Linked DNA regions of Homo sapiens: region 1 is reported to be linked to region 2. Evidence: microRNA targets listed by miRTarBase, many of them from high-throughput screens and not tested one by one. Region 2 holds a microRNA gene; the other region holds the end of a gene's coding sequence.
Evidence for each region. Region 2 holds the annotated microRNA hsa-miR-424-3p (CAAAACGUGAGGCGCUGCUAU, at 1,918-1,938, opposite strand). A microRNA usually pairs through its seed, bases 2 to 8, with sites in the 3' UTR of a target mRNA and lowers its output. Matches are read on the target gene's strand: a 7mer-m8 pairs with bases 2 to 8, a 7mer-A1 pairs with bases 2 to 7 and ends in A, and an 8mer does both.

Region 1: miRTarBase lists MAP10 as a target of hsa-miR-424-3p. Seed matches in the 3' UTR shown: 7mer-m8 at 1,533-1,539.

The regions. Positions count from the first base shown.
Region 1 is chr1:232,807,830-232,810,829 of GRCh38, reverse strand. It overlaps MAP10 (microtubule associated protein 10), which reads right to left. Exons shown (of 1, transcript NM_019090.3): 1 at 901-3,000. The coding sequence ends at 2,663. Among named protein-coding and RNA genes, the nearest start is that of MAP10, 3.9 kb to the right of the region's middle.
Region 2 is chrX:134,544,727-134,547,956 of GRCh38, forward strand. It overlaps MIR424 (microRNA 424), which reads right to left and starts at 1,985; the gene lies at 1,888-1,985. MIR503HG (MIR503 host gene) reads right to left here and starts at 1,904. Exons shown (of 3, transcript NR_024607.1): 1 at 1,826-1,904; 2 at 1-71. MIR503 (microRNA 503) reads right to left here and starts at 1,672; the gene lies at 1,602-1,672.

The DNA of each region.
Region 1 (3,000 bases), not on the chromosome of region 2:
ATATTTTGCTACCAATAAAAGTCTGGTTCCTAAATGTAATTCCATACTAAATTCACTGCTTGTACATGAAGAAAAATCTAAATTAATTGACATGTAAAGGAGTGGCTCTCAGCAGAAAGCCATAATAATTGCATGATAGAAGTTTAATATCATTGTTCTTTGCATCTGAAAATGTCATCAATAGCATGCATTGTAAGTGAAGGGAAAAAACCCAGCGTACTGTATGCATCTGCACAGCCCTCTGCAAATGTTTATGGGAACAGTTCAGAGGACTTATTATTGGTGGTTGGTTCCTAAGCTGTAAACATTCAACATTACATAGAGGTAGGTCTTAACATCTTTTCTGTGGCTCACTTTGCATTTTAGACCCTCTCCCACTCAGCTTTGTCCATAGCAGTTTAGACACCCATGATATTCAGAAGACCTTTTGGAAGGTTTGCAATAGCTTGGTTTTACAATGAAATGACAGTCTCCCTTATTTGTGACTTGAAATACTATTTCATGTTTCAATAATTTTAAGCAACTAAGGAGATAAATAAGGCTCCATGAATAGTATCTATTACAAAATTCTTTTAAAATAAGCTTATAGATTGTAGAATTAAAACATGGAGTAGAATTTGTAGAATGTAATAGGAAGGACTAAATACATGAAAACAGATATTTTCACTAGAATTAGACTAGAAGAAACAATTATCACAATTCTAGAAATAAGTATTCATGGATTAACTCAAAGAGAAGCGGATTCAGCTACTCAGCTTTGTAATTTAAAGTGCATTAGTTTTTTGGTCTTGTTGTACCTTAGACTTGCTAAATTAATCATTTTACCTATTCTTACCACAGACAATGACTTACTCTCTACCAAATAAAACGTTGGTTTATAAGGAATTATTTCTTTGATGATTCTGATATTGCTTATATTTTTATTGTCTCTTCCATAGTAATGACAAATTGCTATTAAACAATTTACACAGTTCACATCATTAAACATCTAGTTACAATACCTGGCATTACAATATTTTGATTTTGTGAAATGTTATACTATATGCTTTATATTTTAGAAAAATTAAGATCATAGCCACTAGCCACAGAAACCTTTCATATCTCAAAACTTTAACTGATATAATTTCTCTGCTTATTATTTTCAATAATTTAAAATATTCAAAATGTCATGACTACTTACTAGTGCTCATTTATAACCTAAAATAATCTGTTATTCCTATTGCTTAGAATTCTATTATTATACTTAGCATTTGAGGCTCTCTGTAATCTGGCATTTTCCTTACTCAACAAATGTCCTTTCTACCACTCTGTAGCATGAGTGGATCATTCTATTCAAGATAATATTTTAAATTGTCCCATAAATATATCAGGCTCATTCCCATCACTCTTTTATTCATATTGCTCCCCAAAATGTAACATCCTCTTCTCTCTTTTTACCATCTATCTATATTCTAGTATTATGATCATTCAGAATACCTATATAATTAATTACCTTTAAAGAAAGGAAATTAGAACCTCACTTCATACATTCAAAAACGTTAGATATATTAAAAAGTCTAAAAATTAAAGTATAACACAGCTAGAAGAAAATATATGTAAATATTTGAACACAGAATAAAGTCTAAATATAAAACCAATGGAATAAATTATAAATTATCACTGGATTTCATAAAAACAAAGTTCCATACACTAAAAATAACCATTGAACAAACTGAAATGACAAGAAACTGAACTCCTATATCAGAAACTGTATAAAAGATACCTTCTTAAGTTTCCCTTTCCAAATATTTCAGAGAACACCTGAAGGCTATTTATACCAAGCAAAACAGAAATATTACAGTCAAATATATTTCCAATAAGGATTTTCTGCAGGTTTATTTTAGGGAATCTGCTTATTTTTGCTGCTTAATTCTAAACCCTCCCATTAGGTATTTTAAATGCCTGGGCTTCGTTTTTTTCAACAAATGTTTTTATTGCACTGCAGCCACATGCCAGGAATTGTGCTAGATACAAAAATGCACTGATGTGTAAAACAAATATGATCCCATCACACAACTGAAGCCTAGTGGAAGATAAACTTTAATCAAGTAATCACACAAATTGTGGCTTATAAACAAAAGGTGCAGGGCACTATGAGAGCATATAAAAGCAACTTCACCTATTGGGGATATGGGATATGTATATGTCAAGGAAGACTTCTTATCTACATACAACTGTAAGCTTTTAAAACAGCAGGGCTCTATCATAAATAGATTCTGCACCTTTCTGCATCTAACACAGTAAGTCTTCTATATTTGTTAAATAATTTGTTCCAATTAAAATTTGAGGCTGTCCTTACTAACTAGCCTTCTTTTTCAGTGGTGTGCATGAAGTCAGCTTTAGAATGATCAATACTGTAGACTAGACACTTTAAGAGAGACAATTTAGAAAGACACACTTTTATTCTTATGATTAAACAATTTAAAAAGAAATCTGTTTATATGATTTAATAATCAATATTATCAGATTTAATGGTAAAATACCATTTAAACATCAAAGGAATAACGTTAATTCATATTTCTTTAAAAAATTATTCACATAATTCATGAACTAAAACAGCTTTAAAATTTTTTTCACTAACAGTACACATAGGTCCTTGAAAGTTTTTTAAAAGCATGTATTTTTACATTGTGTATCCTGGAAGTTTATTTATTACTAATTCACAAATATCTTTGCATTGCTTGGAAATATTTAGTGAACCAACATCATCATTGCCTTCTTCAAAGTGATCTGATGTACTGCTATCCAGGACATTAAGTTCGGACACATTTGAAGGCAGGTAAGAACTCACCTGGGATGTTTGTGGTGACTGGCTTTTTTCTAAAGATTTCCAACTACTTCTTGTTTTAACAGAGATGTCTTGAGCTCTCTTTGTAATTTCAGAATTGTGCATACTATTTTGATCTATCTGGTTTTCTTTTTGTTCAGTCCAATGTGTTGAAGATAAATCACTAGCAGAGA
Region 2 (3,230 bases):
GCGTCCACTGGAGGAAGCCGGATGGCGCGGGCTTGGTCTTTCAGGAAGGCTGGCTGGCACCGGGCTTCCTTCTGGCTCCAGGGGGAACCGTACAGGACGGGGAGAAAGGGGGAAGCTGGTGAGAGGCAGAAGGGGCGTCACAAGGTGGCTCTCCCACCCCCAAGTGCAAAGGCAGGCGGATGCGGGGACCTGTTCGCCGTTTGAGCCTGGAGATTGCGGGCCTGAGGGGCCCTGCGCTGGCCGGCCGGGGCGAGGCGGGAGCAGAATGGGGATTTCTAGGCCGCCGGGTCGGGCTGGTGGGCGGCGCCCCGGGAGCCTGAGGGTCCCCGCCGGCCCGGGAGGGACCCGAGCCGCCCCCGCGCACTGCCCCGGCGCAAGGGAGTCTGGGAGAGCCAGCGTCTCGGGCCGCTGAACCCGACTCCCAGCTCTAGACTTCGGAACCCCGGCCCCACCCCAAACTGGGAAACTTCTAGGGGCCCACTCCTGGCCCCGGGAAGCCCAGTTCCAGGCAGCCCATTCAGACCAGAGGAGTTTGGGTGTCTTTTTTTTTTCTTTAAGGTGACAAAAAGTGTGGGAAAGATTCCACACCTCCCTCCCCACGCCCGCCAATGGTCCTTTACCTGTCCATGTTTCAGATTAAATAATTAGCTCAAGAGATTTGCACAGAAAGCGAATTAGCCCTTTTCTAGTCAGACTGTTAAGCTCTCAGGCGGGCAACTCGGAACCCCGTTTCCTCACCGAAGGCTCAGGAGGCCAGCCCAGTGAGGGATGGAGGTGGCTTTAGAGGGCGACAGTTGTGCAGCACTCATGAGCAACAGTGCCCAGGACTTTTGAAGTCACGAAGGGCTCCTGAAATCGACAGCTCAGGTCCCGCCCCTGGGGCGACAAAGGAGTCTTGGGGGCGTGCCGCCGGGTTGGAATTGTGGTAGCAGATTTTTGGGGGAGGAGGGCGCAAAGCAGCTAGAAACGCACATCCTCATTCTGGAACTATCCCAAGGCCCCCATGCTTCTCAGCAGGCCTCGGGCTCAGATTGGGCGGGTTGGAGCCTTCCACCCCACCTTGGGTTCACCCGCCCGCAAGGCCTCGCGCCTCACCCGATCCTTCTAGAGTGCTGGAGCTCCACGGAGCCTCCCTAACCCCCCAGCAGCGGGGAAGGGAGGGCGAGGGAGTGGGGAAGAGGCCCGTTATTTTGATCTTTCCTGAATTCTTAAGTCCCTTCCATACCCAGGACATGAGCGCGTTTACCAGGAACCGCAGAGAGGTGTAAAGACTTCTTGCAGCTGCTCACCCTTCCTCTCCCCTTACTCCTTTTCCAGTCCTCCCCACCCCCCAGCATTTCGTGGGTGGGGACTGAAGATAGGTTTTCTTCGTTGTCCTGTGGGTGGTATTCTGATTGGGAAGGGATTTTTTTCAATTGTTTACATTCTACCTGAGCAGGGAAAGGGGGTGCCAAAATGAAGCATCATTCACGTCCAGTCACATATGCAGAGACGGGGCAAACGTTTGATGCAATCTTGGGTCTCGCTGCTCCCGGGGCCGACACCGCAGGCGATGGCCTAAGACTTACCTGCTGGGTAGGCCCGAACGGCAGTCCCAGACTTACCCTGGCAGCGGAAACAATACCCCAGAGCACCGATCGCTCACTGCAGAACTGTTCCCGCTGCTAGGGCACGGCTGAGCGCGGGCACCGCGTCTCTCCTCGACTCGCACCGCCTATGCGCCCCAGCCTAGCCAGGAATACTGCCCTCCCCGGACTACAGCCCTGCTGCGTGGACAAGGGCGAGGACCCGCCGGAAACAGAGACGCGAGCCCCCGCCCACCTACCTGCTCCTGAGCCGGCCTCGCGGGGAGCGGGCACCTGGTGGCAGGAACACGCGTCCGGCAGACCCCACCTTCTACCTTCCCCACGAGGGGGTATAGCAGCGCCTCACGTTTTGAACCATTTAGAACACTTCAAAACATGAATTGCTGCTGTATCCCCTCGGAGTCAATGAAGGGGGATCGATCTGGGGGTACCTGCGGGTGAATAAAGACTGGATGACTGAAGGAAGCCCCGCCCCACCCCCTGGCAAGGAATAGGGCAAAACTTATGACTAGGCCACTTCACTCCAAGTTAAGGTACTTCTTATAACTTCACCATTTGATTTCCAGGAGCTGCAGGTGGAGCCGAAAGTGTGGCTCTCAATTTTTTCCCCTGAGGATGAATCTTGGAACAACGTAGTGGGTGAAAAGCAGAGCGATGGGGGATACGAATTAGTGTGGAAGAGAATCTAATTACTTCTGAAGGTAGACGAATAAGGTTAAGTAGAGGCAATTGGACATCTGGATCATTCTTGCCAGTTTCAAAGTCTTGGTGAAACTTCTTCCTGCTGCATATTACAAGTCTCATTCATTGTCCCCATTAAAAAAAAACAAAAAACGAAACAAAAAAACAACCTTTATTGGAAATGGACTCAGATGACTGAAAGAAAATAACCAAAACCTCACCGGTAGCTTCAGCTGATTCTTACACTATCGTTGCGACATATACATCTATCTTTAAAAGCATTAGATGTCCTAACTCACTGCTAGTGTTTTTATTCTTAAACACCCCAGCTGAGTTATTTTAAAGAGCTCCAAACAATGACAGAGAACTTTCTGTAGATGAAATACCAGTTTACATATTAAACTGGTTACTCAAACTTATTTATAATTTATACCTATCAATGTCATCTATCAAAACATAAATCAAAAAGTTTAAATACTTGATGTCAAGTCGCTCCTTCCTGTTTCAAGCAGCTCCACAGAAACTTTCATGTCCTGAAATGGCCGGCACTGCGCATACTCCTTAATGATTAACTCATTAGATACCACTTTTTCCTTTTTAAAATGGACACATATTAGCAACAAGTCACATGCATGCCCTCTTTTTGTTTGAATACAATATTCAATTAAGCATTAAAAAAAAAACCCACTCTGAAATCCTCAATCACAAACCTAAAAGTTAAAACAACAAAATCAGCACTAACTGTAATGGTTTTGAAAGTTAAATACATTTCAGCACAAGTAATAGACATTTAAATTATCCAACTGTAAGTATCTTGTTACACTTACAAATTAAGTCGGTTTTTCAAAACCAGTACAATGAATGTTAAGTGTCCTATTTATTAGTTAATAAAATGTGCAGAGTATTTAATAAGATTAAGTATCGAATTTATAACATCCAGACTGAGATCCAGTGGTAACAAAT